Linked DNA regions of Homo sapiens. The protein of the gene in region 2 interacts with the protein of the main gene of each other region in a pairwise test. Each region holds a gene or a part of one and is shown on either strand. Other genes may lie near its edges.

Region 1 (5,680 bases), 8.4 Mb from region 2:
TGGGTGGAGAAGGCTAGATATAGGGCCAGAACGGTTTGGTGAGCAGTGGAGAGAAGCCAACGAGTGGCTGCTTCTAAACTGGCAGACCTTCTAAAAATCATTTCTGTTTCTGAGTTGGCAATGCTTTGCTAATGCTTTACAGATTTACCTTCCTCGTTATATTTGGCCCAGGCAAAGATCAAAATGAGTTTGCAGTCCTTAAACACATGCCTAAGGGAAGCTGAGACTGAAAGCCAGAATAGCTTACAGCAGGTTCGTGGAGAAGATTGTGCATATGTGCATCCACCTGCAATGGACTAATCTACAGTTCATGGGGCAGATGACGATAAGCGCAAGACATCTGGGCCAGGAACATTGGCTCCGAGCAGAACCCACAGAGGAGGAAGTAATTTAAAAGCCTTCCCACCCTCCAGGTCTGGGGTTTGCTCTCTTGAGCCCTCTCCAAGGCACAGATGGAGACCAGCCTGGATGCCTGAGCCTGCAGGACTAGACAAGTAAGTGGACTCAAGAGTGGATTTGAAGAAACCTTTATAGATATAGATTCCATTTTACAAGAAGGGAAAATTGAGGCCTGGAGCAGAAGGAAGCAGTGGGGTAGAGTCAGAACCAGCATCCTTAAGCCGGGCAGACTTGGCCTTAGACAGACATGCCTTACTTAGGTCCAGCAGATGCTACCAGGAAGGTATGGCTGGCAGTACCTGCGTCTGAGCTCAGGACTTCAGACCAAGATGGAAGTCCCTTAGACCAATAACATAAAAATCACTTTTTAACTCAGGTGCTGTGGGTAGGGAGCAAGGGCAGCTATACTGTCCTTTCAGAAGCTCTCCTGGGCTGTGGAAAGTGCCCACGAGCCTGGCAGATCACGGAGGAAGGAGGCAGAAGTTCCAGGCCCAGAACCTGTTGAGGAAGCAGAGAAGAGGCAATGAGGATGGCAGGCCAGATCAATGCCCCTCAACCTTCAGCATGCCCAGGATGCACCTGGCCACGTTACTCATGCACGTGCCTGTAGCACGTGCTCGAGCAGAGCCTGAGATTCTGCATTTCCAGCAAGTTCCTGGGTGGTTTGTGGATGCTGCTGACCCATGGACCACAGTCAGTAGCAAGAGCTGCTAGACAATGGCAGGGAGAAATTCCCCATCTCCACCTTTCCTCTTGCCGGAGGGGCAGAGTCAACCACTAATGGCATCGCCTCCACCCTGTCCCAGACCGTGGGAAAACCTGAGCCTGAGAGCAGAGAGCCATTAACACAGCAGTGGGGCTTTGTGCAAGCCTCGCTGAGGCCAGGCTCTTGCAGATCCTCTCCTTGCTCTCGGAGCTACAGGCCTTCCCCCTTTGTTTGGCAAGGGATCTGTTTCTTGCCCCAAAGCCCCAGAGGAGAGAGAAGGGCCACCTGGGGAGTCCCTGGAGCTGGGGTTCCTCCATCCTCCCTCACCTGGGTCCCAGGCTGCATTCAGAGAGGATTCCTTGAGGCCCTGGCAGCCAGGAACCCTGTTTTATGTGCCCCGAAGGCTGTAATGAAAACATTGATGACCACAGTGAAGAAGACCAAGATGGTGGCTGCGTTGTTGAGCTGGTTGAGTCGCCACTGCTTTTCTACCTCATTCAGGTTCAGCCGTGCTGCAGGGAAGTGGAGTGGGGGGAAAGGGTCAGAGACGGGGCCACAGCACGGAGCTGCCCCCACAACACCCACCAGAGTTTGGAGAGAGGGGCCCTTCAGAAACCCATGTGGCAGAAATCAAGGGAGGTGGTCGTCATCGGGCTGAGATGCCTCTGCCCTCGCCAACCAGTACAATGGGGCACCCTAGTGTGCTTCATCCCACCAGGATTTGGGAACTTAAGCTGGGTCCTGTAAGCGTGGGGACGAGTGCTCATGGAGAAGCGGTGAGCGAGTGAGTGAGTTAGCAGTTAGCGAGGTGCTGGCGCAGTCATTCAGCAGGTACTGCGGAGGGTCTGCTCCATGGGATACCAGGAGACAGGACAGGGCGCCTGCCCTCGCGGGGTGGAAGTTGGTCTTTGGGCCTCTGTTAGCGGAGGGCTCACTGCAGGTCAGCGTGTGGTTGCAAAGCTGCCTGTGCCAATGCAGGGTGGCCCAGGGGACACGTGGGGCCTTTCTGCCAGCCACGGGTGCCGAGGCAGAAGGTCTGACTGCAGGCTGGGCTCCTCACCAATGACCACGAGCAGGACACCGATGACCACCTGCAGGAGCAGAGAGAGGCTGATGAGGGTGACCAGGGTGGTGTAGTAGTGAGAGGATGGTCCCTGCTCCAGCACCGCCTTCAGCCGCATGGCGTTGGACATGAACAGGGCCACGTCCAGCATGCTCTCCGCCACGCTCTTCTTGGTGGCGTAATGGTTCAGGTTGATGGGCTGGCTCCTGGGGTCGGAGCTTCCAGGCTGTAGGGGAGAAAGCACAGACTTACCAAGGGGAGCTCTGGAAGGGAAGCAGTTGAGAGGTGGGAGAGAGGAGAGAGGTTTTAAAGCTCTTTCCAATCCAGATGGGAAGCTCAGGGCAAATGACACCCTTAGTTTCATGGCCTGATAAAATGAAGGGTTGGACGAGAAAACCCATAAGGACCTCTGCACTCTGAAATGACATTCTGTTGCAGTTGATACTTCCTGGAGAGTCACCCCTTCCCTCACACCTTCACACATCTGGCTGGAGAAAGCCGGGAGGGTTCTCTGCTGCTGGTAAAATGCACCTTCCTCACCCTATTCACTATTTTACCTGGGCCAGGCCTCAGCTTTGGGCTGTGTTCTTTTCCTCTGAGAGGAAAGCACCTGAGAAGACAATAAAAAGAGCTTGGAGGCTTGGGTGAAATAGAGAAAGGCACCTCCTCTCGCATAATGCTGTGGCCCCCAAGGCAGGGTGCACAGCTCAGCAGCTGATCATCGGCTGGATTTCCAACCCTCAGGAGCACTGGAGCTGCCGCCCTGCTCAGGCACACACGCTGTCAGACACAGGCTCTCAGCATACACATGCATGCATGCATGAGTGTATACACACAGTAATGCATACTAGTTAAACACTCACATCATTTTAATTATTACTTTTGGCTAGGATTTATTGAAGCATAATTTACTAAAGCTTCTCCAGAAGCCACTAACTCCAAAAGACAGAATCACAATACAGGGCATATGCTGTGGGCCTCTGGGTTGGGCCAAGAATTTCAGACTGGGCGCCATGACCAAGGGCAATCTGCAGTCACTCAAGAGTACTTGGAAGATTGATTTAGCAGTGGTGCTTGGAACAGACTGGGCCAGGAAGGGCTAGAAGCAGGGAGAGTCATTTAAAAGTTATAGTATTGATTTAGGATCAGGGTGAAAAGGAACTGAAGTGGAGCAAGGTGAGACAGGAAGGAATGGAGGACTCTGAAGGATGCTACGGCCTGGAGGTAGGGAAGATGACCCAGCAGATCACCATGACAGGACAGATACCTGCAGAGTGGGGAGAGACGGATGGATTGAAGGATGCTATGGCCTGGAGGTAGGGAAGATGACCCAGCAGATCACCACGACAGGACAGATACCTGCTGCGTGGGGACAGATGGATGGATAGATGGATGCGTGCCTATATATGCACAGTGATGCATACCAGTTAAACACTCGTAATTTGTTTTTAATTTTTTTGGCTAGGATTTATTGAAGCATAATTTACATTTGATTTTGTTTTGAAGTATAAAATAAAGCTTCATGGATGAAGGGATGGATGGATGGATGGAGAGATTGGTGGGTGGATGGATGGATGCGTGGATGATTGGATAGGCAGGTCTCAGAGGGTCTGGAATGTTCCTTGTACTTCGTGCAGCCCCAGCAAGTCACTTCACTTCTCTGTACCTCAGGGATTTACACAGAGGACAGTTGATTTACACATAGGCTAACTGATTTACCTATCTATCAGAACCTTTGGATTCTATGAGCCCTTAGGATACCCCGAAATGAGGCTGGGTGCAGTGGCTCATGCCCGTAACTCCAGCACTTTGAGAGGCCAAGGCAGGGGGATCATTTGAGGTCAGGAGTTTGAGACTAGCCTGGCCAACATGGCAAAATCCCGTCTCTACTAAAAATACAAAAAAATCAGCTGGGTATGGTGTCACACGCCTGTAATCCCAGCTACTCAGGAGGCTGAGGCAGGAGAATCACTTGAACCAGGAGGCAGAGGTTGCAGTGAGCAGAGATCGCACCATTGCACTCTAGCCTGGGTGGCAGAGTAAGACTCTTGTCTCAAAACAAAAACAAAAACAAAACTCTGAAATGCAGTAGTCTCCAGACTTTCTTGATAGTGTAATCTCAGCATTAAAAACTGTTTTGGCCATGCATCCTCAATATATGTACATTCTTCCATTATCAACTATACATATTTTTATTGGACTAATTATATATATAGTAAAATATGCAAAAGTAGAAACATTTGAAAGGATTACATAAAATTCAATATAAATAGAAGTTTAATTTTCTTATCCTAAAATATGGTCTTGGGCACTCGTCTTTGGAGATCCAGCTCTAATCCACATGCCTGGCTACAGATTGGACCAATCCTCTCCTAGGCCAACAGAAGGGAGCCTCTCTTCCCCAGTCCTTCTCCTAACGTTTGCCTTCAAAACTCAGCCCCACGTCTCCACCCTGCTCTTCTCACTTCCTTTCCAAGCTCCTGGCCCTTTGCTCTGTTTGCCAGGAGGGTGCACACACACAGACACATTCAAGAGGCACAGGGTGGTCATGGGTGCTAACAGCACCTGCTCTGATGGAATCCACCCTGGCAGCCTGTGCCCCGCAGGCTGCCCCTCTCTGACTCTGTGGACCAGTCATTGGAGGATCAAACATATAGGAGTGGCTCTTTCACTCTGACCACACTCCAGGCCATCAGCTTTCTACACGGGGCAGTTCCCTGCACCTGGGTTGTTCATTATTGAGATTCCGAGTGTCCTCAACTTCTGGACGGGGCAGGACTCACAGAGGGTAATCAGGAGTGTGCACTTTGGCCAGTGGAGCAATTTAAACACTTTCTCTGGGAGAGTAGAATGGAGACCAGCGGGTAGCATTCATTCAATAGATTGACTGTACATGCCAGGCGGTGCTTGGGGCTGTGAGGACACCCCCCCCCCCCCGCCCCCCGGGTAAGCACTGGGCCACAGGCTGCTCACAACAGGCCCTGGCAAACTCCTTTTGACAGCCACCAAAATCAGGCTGGGGCCCAGGGCCCACAGAAATAAGAAAAAAGGCCATAGGCACGAAAGGAATGGAGTGCTCACTATCTCTCCCATCTTCCTTCGTGTTTGATTTTGCTGGGGCCGGGGTTTCAGCTGGTGCTGGGGGCAGCCAGTGAGGTTGGAGGAGGTAGGGATGGAGGGTAAATGAGGACCTGCATGGACTTGGGAGGCCACACACGGCGTTCAGGGCCTTTGGAAATCCAGTTCAAGCAAGGCTGGCTTGTCTAGGGCCAGCTGGCATGGTTGGTTAGGGCCAGGGATCCCAGGGCCAACACTTCACAAAGGCCCATGGTCGCCGTCAGCCCCAAGGCTGCAACCTGTGGTCTTAGCCCATTTGGTGAAGGTTTGTCCTCGGTCTCCAAGAGCACTCATTAGGCAAGAGAGTCTCACCCCCTGCACCCAAATTCAAAGTGTCTCTGCCCAGGTTCAACTGTGCCCCCTGGCCTCCCTGCCCCATGGCTGTGCCACCCCTC
Region 2 (6,815 bases):
AGGTTGCCTGCCCAATGGGAGAGGTAGGGTTTTTCTAGCTTGTGTGACAGAAGTAGCAAAATCTGGTCCTCCCCCCTCCCAGTGTAGCTGTGGCTCAGAGTTTTTTCTTTTTGTTGTCACTTACTCCCTTGTGATTGAATTTTTTCTCCTGCATCCATGGCAGGATCCCCAGCCAGTATAGAGACTTGGTTGGCATCTTCTGCTGCAGGGACTAAAAGTATTTGACTGGGGCACATGTGGCTGTTGTCATTCTTTCTGCATCCCACTGTTCCCCTCCAATTTATGTTATTTTCTACCCTGTTTTTCAGTTCCATCTCTGCTCTGTCCTATAGCTTTATAAAACCAGAGTGTGTGGGGCTGAGGTCAGGAGTATAAGTACCTGCCTTAGGCACTATTCCTTATATAACAAAAATATTAAATATTTTTTTCCTCAGTAAAAGGATGAAAATTGGTTTCAGTTGTCTTACTCTATTCCAGTCTTTGCCCACTTTCACACAAATGACAAGGCCAATATGTTTTGTTTGTTTTTTAATCATTAAGAGTTTTTGTACAAAAGGTGATGGTTTTTTTTCTTCATTTTAAAACACCAGGGTGTGGGGGAGGGATGCAAACAAATAACAAAAAAGATGCTTTTGTAACATTATTTTCCCTGTTTAGAAAGAAAAAAATCACTCCAATAGTATTGAAAAGTCCAAAGATGAAATAGTTTCATTTTCTTTTCCTAAGGCTTATAAAAGGCCCCCTGCCTGTTGATTCCATCCCTCTTTTGTGTCCAGTGGAGCCATGTTACTCTTCAGTGGCCCAGGGGTTCACTATTAAAGAAAGATCAGTCCAGGTTTCTGGGCACATGGCCTAAACAGGAAGATGGAAGCATCAGAGGATTAAAAACCTTTCCCCACAGAAATGTGGGCAAGAAGACACTTCCCTGAGCCAGCAGAAGGGACAGGTGCAGCAGCATTCCACACCCAGCGCAGAGGACAGCAGAGCCCTCGATGTCCCACTTCTGCTTCCGTTCCCTTTCTAGAAGATTGAAAAAAAGGTCAAAACCACATGCCTGTGGAGAAAGTGCGACATGTTTAGAAATACTGGTAGGGAACCAGGAGTAAGAAAAGCTTTACCAGCTTTTACTACAAATGGATGAAAGACATCAGGATCCCACCACCGCAAGGTAAAGTGACTTCCCTTTTCTGGAACCCCTGTGGCACAGGAGTACCAATTTTCCTTTCCAACGAACTGGATTTCTGGATAGGCATTTTGGCTGTATGTGGACAGATAAGACCACAGTCCTTAGCCCAATCCCAGCTATACAGTCACCCCAATTTCCACAAATGATGTGATGGTACCGTATAATCCTGTAATTGGGAAATTTCACATTTTTCCTGTCCTAATCTCAGAGGTGGGAGAAGCAAGTCTAGAACATCTCCAGGCTCAGACTAAACGAGAGTACTTGGACTGCAACCAAGTAATCACTGCAAAGTAGTTCCAAGCAGCAAGAAATACCAGATTCTCATGGAGGCTACTATAGGGTACAGAATAACAACATGAAAGCAATCAACCCTGTATAAATAATGTTTCTTGGCATTTTTTTTTTAATTAAAGAAATCCAGTGTCTCAAAAACTTGTGAAAATGTGTTTAAAAAACAAACGGCCAGTGAGCCTGCTACACCATTTTGCCCATATGCCTATTGTAACTTCTGATGTCAAGAGACAATGCAAAAGCCTCTGTTTTCACAGGCCCTATTATATTAACTCTGACTTACAACTGTACCTCTCTAGAGAAAAAACAGAAAATAAGGAACAAAGGGAAGGCAGTTTTACTAGTGAGAAGATGCAAATCAAAAGCAAACTGGAAAGCAAGAGCAATAGTAAGGGTGAGATGAGGGACTGGAGTTGAGACTGCTTGAGAAATCTGGCTGTGTAGCTTTGGTTTGGGGGACTGAGGAAGAGGCTGGACATATAAAGTGCAATCTACATTGGTAATAAATGGTCATCCCTTTCTTCTGACTCCTCCCCCAGCTGGTCATCCCCCACACCACGATATGCTGCAGGCACATTTCGAGGTTTAGAACGGCAGACAAAGTCACAGCCATCCTGTAGGGGGAAAAAAAAGAAGGAAATAATTCGCAGCATCTAACTTTAGGATATGAGAAAGTGTACTTATGGTCTAGGAATGTGGCAAGAATTGGTTTTCTATAGGGATAATGAGAAAACCTAAAAGATCTGACAATCAGCCTAAATTCAATTTGGGGCAACAGGAGAAAAAGTTTCTTCTTATTAGGCCTCACCTTCTTCCCACCCAGGCCCTCTTAAAAGCTAAATCAGATTTAGAAGAGCCCATCTGGTCAACAGTGTTGCTCTTTCAGCAATGTCTTACCAAGGCCAGAAATGGATGCTGTGCCACTTACTACTCTGTACTAGGGCAACTGTCTTGTTTGCTGGGACTTTTGTGGTTTTAGCACTCAATGTCCTGTGTCCCAGGAACCCCCTCAGTGTGAACAAACGAGGATGGTTGGTCACCCAACCTTGTTTGCAGGCTACAAATTCAACCAGCTGCCCTGTTACTTACTGCTACCAGGTTGCCAAGATCCTGCCAGAAGGCTAAGTGGGGAAACTGCTCCATTCCTTTGGCTCCCACTACCAGTCGCTGGTATAGGAACCCCCCAACAACATAAACAGCAACCAGTGATGCAAACCTGTAGAGAGAGAAAGACATCTATACTTAAGAACTGGGAAATAGTAAAAACTCAGATAGGATAACCTCTGCATTTATTGTCAGCTGTTTCCTAAGATACATTCCCTGAAAAGGAAAAATGAGTAGTGATACTAAATGAAAAAGGGGGCTGGTAACTCTTAGAAAACCAGTTAGAGTGCTGTCAGTCCAAGAGAAGCAAAGGCCCAGACAAAATGTGACAGCGTGTGATTCTATGGCCAAGAATAATCACCATTAAGTATATGATTCCATTTCTCTAGAAGTTCTCATAATCTAATGAAATAATATAAAAATTGCCTAGTCCTGCAGTAGGGGAAAAAAGCACCTCCAAATGCAAATCTATACCGGCAACTAAACATTAAATCTCATTTTTCAAAAACTTGCAGTCAGAATTTTTTTTTTTTTTTTTTTTAGACGGAGTTTTGCCCTTGTTGCCCAGGCTGGAGTGCAGTGGTGCGACCTCAGCTCACTGCAACCTCCACCTCCCAGGTTCAAGTGATTCTACTGCCTCAGCCTCCCAAGTAGCTGGGATTACAGGCATGTGCCACTGTGCTGGCTAATTTTGTATTTTTAGTAGAGACGGAGTTTCATCATGTTGGTCAGGTTGGTCTCAAACTCCTGACCTTAGGTGATCCATCTGCCTTGGCTTCCCAAAGTGCTGGGATTACAGGCGTGAGCCCTGTGTCCTGGCAGAATTATTTTATAGCCAGAGGATTTAAAAAGTTATCCCCATCAATTACAGCATAATGTACACATACAATTTGTGCTTATGTACCACCATATAGTTACTGACCTTAAAAACAAAAGGAAGGAAGGTCTGTTCTGATAAAGGAAGGCATACTCACGTGACAAGTAAGATGGAACCCACACTGAGGTGGGAGATCTCTGGTGAACAGGCCAGGCTGCTATCCATCTCAAAGAGGTAGAAACAATCTTGGACTTTGCCACGCTCCTCAGACACAGGGTTAAAATTGTCCTGATGATGAGATGGCATAACACATTCAGGTGGTTAAGTGTTTTGACTCCTGTCCAACAAAATAAAAAACCCAAAAAACATCTGCTCCTTCCTGGTTCAGCAGCCTATTTTCCATGGAAGATGCGTGTCTGACACAGAGAGAAACTGAGCTCCTAGTTTTCTAATGTCCATCCCAACGTATCGTGTCCCCTCTGGATATTCTCCCCAACCTCAGGTCAGTCCTTTCAGTCTCCTCCCTCGGCTTATACAACACAGGGTGCCTCACCGCTAGGGTGTGTCGATTGCAGGAGATCATCACCACTGCACGACGCTGCTCCTTGCCACAGTGGTTGTCATATTCATCACCCCCTTTATAGATCAGCATGATCCAATTACCTGAGGAGGGACAAGGAAAATGGAGCTATGGGGTGGGGGAAAAGCAGAGGCAGATCTGGGTGGTATGGCAGAGTGGAATTGCGTAATTCATTGCAATTGGTTATAACTAAACAACCCTCATCAGTACGAACTTGGTATACCAGAAATGCCAAGCTAAACTTGTTTGCTTACAAAGACTTGTGTTCCCTTAAGACAAGAATCAGATATTCATTTAAGAATAATCTTAATTTTTAACATTAAAGGTAGGCAACTGACAATGCAAAACCAATTATGATCCATACCTTAACACTGATTCATTTTCTGAATACCTTCTAAAAGCAAAAAAAGAGGTTCCATACAATTGCTGAGCAGCAGGGGTAAGCCCATCTAAGATTTCAACTTAGCCCCAGATAAATTCAGAGTGGATATCTAAGATTGGAATGCATATCTCTTCTTTAGTATTTACTGTGTTCAGTTCTTTTGCAAAATATCATTTGATTCAGTAATTGTGAGGTGAATAAGGTAAAGATTCTGCTCCTAGTTTTGCATATGAGAAAACAAGGTCAAAAGGTGATACGACTTTCCAGTCACAGGATTAGGAAACAGGAGGAGAACCTGGTCACATGATCCCCAGCCCCAAACCCTTTTGTTACTTTTTTATTGTATTATTTACCAGGAGTAAATAGCTACCTTGTATAACTTATTTATCTGTATGGGAGGGAATTGGACCATAGGTGCTTACATGGTCCTCTCCAGCAATATGACTTTTAAGAAATATCACCACCATAGCACAAAAATCAGTGGGTAAAGTTTTGCAGACTGAGTAGTTTGCAAAAAAAAGTTTGAGCTCTTAAAATTTAACTGGTAAACTTTGATTAATTTGATGAAAAGTGGTGGTGGTGGTTGGTATTTGTAAGTCTAGTGTGAAACTCATTAAAAGTATTTGGGTGAATAAAAGGACTCTAGGCTACAGAATTCTGGCTAGAGTTGGCTGGGCGCGGTGGTTCATGCCTGTAATCCCAGCACCTTGGGAGGCCAAGGTGGGCAGATCACGAGGTCAAAGATCAAGACCATCATGGCCAACATTGTGAAACCCTGTCTCTGCTAAAAATACAAAAATTAGCTGGGCATGATGGCACACACCTGTAGTCCCAGCTACTCAGGAGGCTGAGGCTGGAGAATCGCTTGAACCCAAGAGGCTGAGGTTGCAGTGAGCCGAGATTGTGCCACTGCACTCCAGGCTGGGTGACAGAGAGAGACTCCGTCTCAAAACAAAACAAAACAATTCTGGCTAGAGTCTTCATTTTGCATAAGTTTTTCACTGATTTTAATGCACAACTGTCCTGAGCTGTGGCTTACAGAGGAGCTGTGGAATTAGGCATCCTGTGGTATATTACAGTCTCAGGTGTGCCGAACCACACGTATGATATGCTGAAGACACTAGAAACGGCCAAGACATACAGGATTGTCAGAGGGATTGACTTGGGATCAGTTAGTCAATCGATGGTAGGAAGGGGAGTTTTCTTACTTCCGTTGAAGATGTGAGTCTCGTTGAGTCTCCCTACCACTGTCTCCTTCCCATTACTTTTGTTGATTTGCACCAGGCCTGCCCCAGAAGTGTGGTTGCCAGCTTCCCGGCACACCCTGAAGATGTAGATGTATGTGTCTGAACCCTGGCCCACAGTGCTCTCAAAGCTGTAAAGAGAAGTGGGAAGAAAGAAGAGGAGAGTTACTAGCTATCAGCCTCAGGAATAACAGCATCCCTTTCCTTAATTAAAACAAAACAAACAACATGCTCGATTTATTTATTTGAGGTCATGGCTGAGTGAATATTTGTTTAATTTTAAGATATTCATAACCTTGACAGACCATCCTTATTGCTGATGATGAATTATTAAAACACACTTGAGCTATCTTGATAGCTCAATATTCTAGTTATTTTTAGAATGCCTGTTAGTAACCATGTTCCAATGAATAAGGGCCCATGTTCATCGGATAGTCTCGTTTCTTAGGGACCAACTTCAGATTTATATATCTGAAGGTTCCTGACACTTATAATGACATGTGTCGGCCTAAATATGTTTATCTGATATTTCTAAAGTCCTATTATATGTAGGTGTCAAATAATCCTTAAATTTCTACAAGCTGGTCTCTTGGATCCAGTCTTGGAAATAGCTACACTTCTGTGAAAGATGAGAAAACTGCACACAGCAACTAAAAACTGGGCTGAGAATTTGCTCTATGTCATAAAAGAGAGCACATTATGAAATAAAATCAGTAAGAAGAAAAGACTTTAACATAAATATTTTCTCAAGCTCTTTAAGGTTCTTCTCATTTACCTTTTATTAAACAGTGGTTTCAGCCTCTTCACTAGAGCCAACTCTTTCTCTGACTCTTTACCCTTTTCTCCTACCAAGTCGCAAGTTTTTTCTTCTGTCTGCCAGGATTCTCTCACTGCCACAGCCAGGAGTAGTAGTAGCAGTCCAGTCCTCCAGCAGCTGTAGAAAGGGAACATCCTTTGGGAGAGAGTGTGTGTTGGGGAGGGCAGGTAGGATCAGGAGAGAGAGGAAAGAGATAAAGCGTATGAATGTGTAATAAATCGATGGTATTTTAATTATCCAGAAAGTACAAGATTCTCTGGCATATGCAACACATAGTACATTTTAATATCTCTGTAACAAGAGCATCTGCAGCAGAAAATTCATTTATATGTAACTTGTAGTCTAATGTATAGGTGAGTCTTTCAGAACAAACTACAAAGTTGGGAAGAGGGAA
Region 3 (7,395 bases), on a different chromosome or scaffold from region 2:
AGGTTCAGTATTTACACCCAGGCCTGCCAGACTCCCAAGACGCTTGAACTTAACCACTTCACCACACTGCTTCCAGAGTCTACAAGTGTTTATGTTAAAATGTGCTGGGTTAGGGAGCCCGTTAAGAGTTTACTTGTTGCTCTTCACATACAGTATCTCATTTAACTAGCACAACCCTGTAGGATAGCTGAGAATTCCTTTTCCACTGTTAACAAAATGGTACATGGATTGAAAGATCATCAGTAACTTATGCACGACAGCTGTACCAGAGTCGTGCCATCTCTTGGCTTTGTTTTCTCTCCTGTAAAATGATGCTCACTCCTACCTCACAATGCCTGCTCAATGGCAGGGGCTCAAATGGTGACGATTATGATTTTTATCAATACTTCTCAATTAAAGTAAAATTTATACACACACAAACACTAGATATTTTAAAGACTCAACCTAATTAATCAAGCCTTTACTTGTTGGAGAAGATATCATTTTTAACACTACCTCATCTGGTCTGAAAAGGAAAGTAGTTTAAAAAATATTTGGAAAAAATTGTTTAATAATAAAATACCACTACCTCAAACTCAGAGAGAACCACTAACTGCAGCTTCCAAAAAGCTGACAAAAAAGGATTACTGAAAATGATGTGGTCAAACCCAATATGGATTTTGAAAGCTACTAATGGACAAGAACAGGAACATTCAGTTATGACAAAATACACACACAAAAAAAATTCCTCTTCTTCCAGCACCATGGCTTGATCATTAATGTGTGGTGTGACCCTGGCCAAGTCACTTCAATGCTGTGATGGCCCTCAGCACCCAAAATGTCAAGGCCAGCTTATGACCAGGAAGCTCTAGTGAGAAGTTGCCCAGGGGGTCTAGGGGACAGGAGCGGGGTGGAGGGGACACAGATGATTGCCTGGAGCAATTTTTAATGTGCTGCCTCTAACTCACTGCTTGCCTTTTACTACACTCATCTGAAAAGAAATGAGAAGTCTGGGCATGCCAGAGGCAAGAGGAACCAGCTCACCACTTCTCAAGCCAGAATGGAAAAGATGGCAGAAGCATAGTTGTACAAGGACCCCAGCATCAGTCAGACAGAAGGAAACCTATAATATTATGCAATGAGAGACCCTGAGGATGTTCTTCAGACAAACCCCAGCAGGACCAATCCAACTCCAAGCTTGAGCGTCCACTCCAAGCTTGAAGATTAAACAATAAGAAAAAATTCGGGTCCACAGGTGAAATACACACTTTCTAAGCACAATGAGCAACTTTATAGTAGATAGCTGGACAACCAAGTACACTAACTGCAAGCATAAGAACAGTATTCATGTTGTAAATCGAGTACCAACTACTATTAGTTTTTTGTTGTTTTGCTTTTTGCAATATTTCTTCTCATATTTTATTTTAAATCTAAGCTAATTTCTTTATAAGAACAGGCTAAGGCTTATTTTCTGTGGCTGATCCAGCCTTACAAGAAAAAAGATTTCACTGTGTCCCTCAGAAACCTACTCCTGTCTACATCACACTGTCGAGCTCTCTCTTTATACCCCATGTGACAGATAAGAAAACAGAAGTCCAGAGAGAGCAAGTGACTCATCCAAGGTCAAACTTCTTGCTAACACATCTAGGACGAGAATAAGGGCTCAAGAAGCCCACTATGGGTCTCTTGCCGTATCACTGCTGCAAATGACCAGGCATACTGGTGTCTTGAATACAAAGTTTATTTGTAAAGGGGAAAAAAAAAAAGCCAACATGAGTCATCTGCATTGTCAACGGGCTCCACACAGGTTGTTCTAATAAAGCATCCAGCACCTCCAGAACCACTTGTTTCTGAAAGCACCAACCTACGCAGACACTAGCAGGCCATGTCTTCCACCCTTGCCACCCTCGAGGCTGTGAGCAGATGCGCTGTTGGGCTCTGGGGATCTAGAGGTGTCACTTAAAGAGCAAGGGAGCCTGGAGCTTGGCAGTACTGACTGGATGAGTGGATGGGTGGGTGTATGAGGACATGGGAGTGTTTTCTGACAGCTCCCGGAGATAGTTATGATATCATGCAGCCTAATCCCACTCATCTTGGAACACCCCAAACATCTCATCCGCTCAGCTGTCCCTCCTCAACTTCCTCAGGGCAAAAGCACTGCAGTCTGAGGTGAATCTGGCCGCTGGGGAGGGGCGGTAGTCGGCCCCAGCAGCAGAGGAAGCAACGCTCAGCTCCCTCCTCCACCCACCCCGTACAGGAACTCCCCACTGGGTCTTCAGATGCCAGAGGCGTACCCAGCTCGGAGCCTGCCCCGGGTCTCAGGGTCGGTCCCGAAAGAACGGGGGAGGAGGAAGGCTCTATCCCGCCCCCGCCTCACCTCTACTCCCCGACCCCCAGGCGCCGACCCTTCTCACCCGCAAGGTCCGCCGCCGGACTCTTGTCCACTCCCAGAGACCCTGAGCGCACCCCTTTCTCGGCGTCCTCAAAGGACCCGCGTTTCCCACCTTCCCATACGGGGCCCTCCCGGCCGCCCCGGCCCAAGCCCTTTGCACTGCGTCCCCCGGCCCCTGAGTCCGCCCCGCACCCGCACTTCCCGCCCGGCCCCGCGGGCTCGCGGTCCGCCCCAACTTTTCCCAGCCCCCGCCCCGCAGCAACCGGGATGCAGCGTCTCGAGCCGCGACGGGCAGGCGAGCTCGAGTCCCTCGGGCCCCCAACCCCGCCCGCACGAGTTGCGCTCGGGACCCGCCGGGCGCCCAGGCCTGGGTCAGCAGCACTGCGCGGAGGCGGAGCCGGCGTGGCGGGAACCGTACTGTCCCGGCGCCGCACCCCCGCCCGGTGCCCGGTGCCCCGTGCCCCGCGCCCGCCCGCCGGCTCGCCCGCCCCGCCGCCGCCGCCGCCGCGCCGCTCCCAGCCCACCTGCCCGCGGGCGCCGCCGCCGCCGCCGCCACCACTGCCGGGAATACGTGGCAGTGGCCGCCGCCGCTTGCGCTCCCCGCCTCGCCTCTCCTCTCGGCGCCCGCGCGGGCGACTCTGGCGCGCCAGACCGCAGCGCCAGGCGCCCTCTGCCGCCGGGAAGCCGAATCCTCCCGTCCTAACCCTAACTCGCTGGCTGCCCCCGCCCGGGCCTCGGCTCCCGCCCCCTCTTCCCCGTTCCCGGCTCAGACTGTCGCTTCCGAGCGACCTGGGTTCTCGCCCGGCCTGCTGCTGCCGCTGCCTCCAGGAAGTTCGCCCTGACCACCTCTGCAGGCTCAGCGCGCTTCCTCCGGCTCCCGCGCAGCGGGTGCTTAAGTCACCCCCTTGTTGATATATTTCCTGCTTCTTTGAACGCCTCGCCCGTGAGATAGCAGAATCGGAAAGGGGATAGTTGGAGGCAAACGCCATGTCTGTTGTGTTCACCATTCTCTCCTCCAGGGCAAGGTTAGCGCCCTGTCTGGAATACTGAAGTGCGCAATAAATACTTGTGAAGAGAGCAAACGAGTAGATGAATGAGTTGAGACTTTTACCGCTGTCTACCCAAGTAGGCTTTGAAACCTCAAGCGGACAGAGATCCTGACCTGGATTTGTTTTTTGTAACTTACACGTGCATATGTGTGCGCAGCTCAGCATAAATAAATGAGATTCACAATTCCCCACCTCGGACCAGCGCCAAATCCGCAAGAGGCCCACGGCTAAATGTTATTCAGGGCTTTTGGTCAAACACGTTTAGGTTTGAGATCTACCTCTTAAAAGCTGGGCAATCGCGGGAAAGCTCATCTCCCTGGCCCACAGTGAACACGTCTATAAATTAAGAATAATAAAACCTACTTCACAGAGTTGTGAGAATTAATTGAGATGGTGCACTATAAAGTTCTTTACGCAGCCCCGATGTGTGCGGTGGTATGTAAATGGTAGTTATTGTTGTATTACTACTGATGCAGTAGGTGATTTTAAAAACTATCTTCGAAATGTAAAATATTGACTACCTTTTCACCTTAAAACCTTTATATGTGTGGTATTGTCACCTGCTCAGCAAGGCCAGCCCGGGGAGCAAGGCCACTCCTGTAACCTCTTCCCCTCCACCGGTAAAAATATAACAAGTCTTGGGGTTTTTTTGTTCTGTTTTGAAGAATTGTGGAACCCACTCTTCTGCAGGTTTTCCACCTGGATTTCTGTGGCCAATCTCTTAATTAACAAGTTTTTATTTTAGGGATGTCAAAGACAGGGAGCCCTTTGAAAGCACCTGCAGTCTACTGGCTCTTCCTGTTTTCTTCCTGACCCTCTCTCAAACAACTTAAGGCTTTTTTTTTCATTTTTACAGGAAGTGTCCTTCCTGCTGCGTACAAAAGGCAGCAATGCAGTAGAGTGGGATCAGAGGGGATTGGGCTGCATACACCTTGGGCTTTCTGCACCTCAGTCCCCTCAACGGTAAACTGTGGAGAATAAGACCTTGTCACATTGGGAGATCATTCATGATCCGGTCTGTGAAGGAAATAAGGAAATACCTGAAACACAAAGATATTTAATAAAAGGCAACTATTGATCAGTTTATTTAGCATGTATTTAAGGAGCATCTTTTTAGTGTTCTATGCGCTGAAAGAATGAGGGGAACACGCGTGTGTGAGGTAAGTTTCCTACCTTCAAAGGAGTTTGAGCTGTAGCTCCACACTAGGGCAGAGGGATTGGGAGCATATGGGATGCAGCTAAATATGAAATTAGCAAGCCTCAAGGTTTAAATTGGGGCAGTGGTACTGCCGTGTGAATTGCTTTAATTCATTATCATTGTAAATGCCATTTTCCTCTAAATATTATGTACACAACTTCCCAAGGCCACTGCTAAAAATTAATGAATAATTTTATGAGGCAAGCAGAGCCACTGATGTAGGACTCAGTCCCTTAATAAGGTGACTCCACATGCTCCCTTATAGTAGTAATAACATAGATATTGTGTCTGTGAAAGTGCCATCCTTGGCTGGGCGTGGTGGCTTACCCCTGTAATCCCTGCACTTTGGGAGGCCGAGGTGGGTGGATCACCTGAGGTCAGGAGTTCGGGATCAACCTGGCCAACACGATGAACCCCGTCTCTACTGAAAATACAAAAACTAGCTGGGCGTGGTGGCAGGCACCTATAATCCCAGCTACTTGGGAGGCCTGAGGCAGGAGAATCACCTGAACCCAGAAGGCGGAGGTTGTAGTGAGCTGAGATCATGCCACTGCACTCCAGCCTGGGCAACAAGAGTGAAACTCTGTCTCAAAAAAAAAAAAAAAAAAAAAGAGAGAGAGAGAGAAAAGAAAAAGAAAGTGTCATCCTTTATAGGTTAGAGTTGTGTATCTTGCAATGCAAGTCTCAGAGGAAAAGTTTACACATTTTACACTAATGGCTTCTAATGAATCACCCCTACTGAGTTGTCCTTCTGTAGCTCCCTCCCACGTTGACCCTGGAGTTGGCCTTGTGACTTCCTTTAGCTACTGGGACATGAACAAATATGACACAAGCAGGGGCTTTCGATGTGCACTTGTGCCTTGCTCCTTGCTTTCTTGAAATGCTATCCTGAGACTGCCATGAAGAAACCTGGTCCAACTCCTTGAAGAGGAAAGACCCTGAGAAGAGAAAGCCTTGCTGTCCCAGCTATGCAGCCCACCAGCTCTCAGCCACATGAGTGAGCTCCAGGGAAAGCCAGCCAAAAATAGTCCAGCCAACCCAGGAATTGTGAGAAATAAAATGGTGGTTGTTTCAAATCACTAAGTGTTAGGGTGGTTTGTTATACAGTAATAGATAACTGACACACAGATCACTCACAGGCACTCCTGCAGTTACAAGTTCTAGATGAAATTCACCCAAGAATCAGTACTCTTGCTAGCGTTTTCTGTTATGAAGCATTCAGTTGAAGTCACTAAATCTAAGCTTAGCAGAGCATCACACTTCATGTAAATACCCTCTTTGAAAGTTCTTCATTGAATTGGTTACTGAGCCTAGTACTGTTTAAAATCCTTTGGCAGTCAACATAACAATGGGCTGGCAAAATCAGCTTGTAAGCTACCAAAAGCTTTAAACGTTAGAACTCCCTGGAACATCAACAGCAGGTATCATAGAGGTTAGGTGTGTTTATCTCTCCCACTTGATTGTAAGCTCCTTAATGACAATTACATTTATTGGCATGGTTTTATCATAGATCACGAAACATCAGAGATGGAGTTAGAGATCATCTAACCCACCACCTCATTTTACAGATGAGAAAACTGGGGCTAAGAGAAATCATCAGAGCCTTACAAATATCCAAGGTCCTGGAGCTGGCTCAGAGCAGAACTGGGATGACCAATTCACAGTTCTTTACGCTGTTAGTTGAACTCTTCTGTTTTTCCTTTGTGACATTTTTGCTATTTAAAATATTCTTCCCATGCTCAAAATATGTCTGTAACTTTCCTATGTGCTGGTGATAAAATCTAAACGATTATACATGGCCCCATGAGGTCTGGTGCAGCTTGCCCCTACAGAGATATTGGTACTGTTCTGCCCCTCACTCAGCACACTTTGCCCAACTGGCTTTCTTTCTGTTCCCCAAACCAGCAAGCTCTTCTCTTCTTCACAGAAAGCCCCTTCCACATGCTGTTCCTTCCACTGACGTGCTCTTTCCCAAACTCTTCACTTTGCTAAATCCCGCTTTCCAGAACCCATTAGAGTTCTGTGGTACATTATTTGGGAAATAATGTAAACAAAAAAATTTGGTGCACATAGAGGTAGCTCTCAGTCTCTTCAGCCAAGTTTTGGAAAGCTCAAAGACCAAACAGCTCAGGAATCTTATGGAGATTTGATTCCTAACAGACACCTTGTTGAGGCTCAACCAGTGGAACAAGCCACTCTGGTTTTTCTGTTTTTGCATCACTCCACTCAAGATTCCAAACCCTAGAAGAACGTCAGCCTTGGTTAGCTTGGCCACATGCCTACCCTCAGCCAGAGAAGAACAGGACACCTTGAATGAAAGCCTCCAAACATAATCATCAGGGCATTGTTACCAAAGAAGGGAAAGTTGATCAAGGATAACAAAACCAGTGAATGTCCACTACATAATCTCTCGGGCCTTGCCTTAAATGTCGTCTTCTCAGAGAAGCTTTTCTTAACCACCCCATCTGTTGCACGCTTTCATGACACTCCTTGTTTTTTTCACTGTTCTCATCATATTTTTATAGTTACATATTCTCATGTGTTTGTGTCTCTCGAATTCTCCCTCCACGAGAAAAGGGACTGCGTTTGCTTGCCCACTACTATACCTTCAATACCTAGCATGGAGCCTGGTGCATACAGGAACTCAATAAATATGTATTAAATCAATCAATAAATGAGCAAACAAATGAATGAATAATATAAGCCTTGTGAGTCTTCTGACTTAATCCATGTGATATTAACTTTGTAGGAAGAAGGAGAAAAGACAAAGAGAATAT

Evidence for each region.
Region 1: the proteins of M6PR (region 2) and NINJ2 interact in binary tests that used the Homo sapiens proteins (3 or more experiments, as listed by UniProt).
Region 3: the proteins of M6PR (region 2) and SMCO4 interact in binary tests that used the Homo sapiens proteins (3 or more experiments, as listed by UniProt).

Annotation. Positions count from the first base shown.
Region 1 is NC_000012.12:563,785-569,464, forward strand, and holds the end of NINJ2 (ninjurin-2), read right to left. Parts: intron 2,395-5,680; coding exon 2,166-2,394; exon of another isoform or gene 1,821-2,165; intron 1,618-1,820; coding exon 1,451-1,617; 3' UTR 1,433-1,450; intron 898-1,432; 3' UTR 512-897; downstream 1-511. UniProt on the Homo sapiens protein: Its role in unclear. In contrast to NINJ1 paralog, does not mediate plasma membrane rupture (cytolysis) downstream of necroptotic and pyroptotic programmed cell death.
Region 2 is NC_000012.12:8,939,850-8,946,664, forward strand, and holds the end of M6PR (cation-dependent mannose-6-phosphate receptor isoform 1 precursor), read right to left. Parts: intron 6,557-6,815; 5' UTR 6,556-6,556; coding exon 6,380-6,555; intron 5,736-6,379; coding exon 5,569-5,735; intron 4,062-5,568; coding exon 3,952-4,061; intron 3,736-3,951; exon of another isoform or gene 3,705-3,735; coding exon of another isoform or gene 3,687-3,704; coding exon 3,556-3,686; intron 2,694-3,555; coding exon 2,567-2,693; intron 2,092-2,566; coding exon 1,969-2,091; 3' UTR 512-1,968; downstream 1-511. UniProt on the Homo sapiens protein: Transport of phosphorylated lysosomal enzymes from the Golgi complex and the cell surface to lysosomes.
Region 3 is NC_000011.10:93,540,381-93,547,775, forward strand, and holds the start of SMCO4 (single-pass membrane and coiled-coil domain-containing protein 4), read right to left. Parts: upstream 3,012-7,395; 5' UTR 2,896-3,011; intron 1-2,895.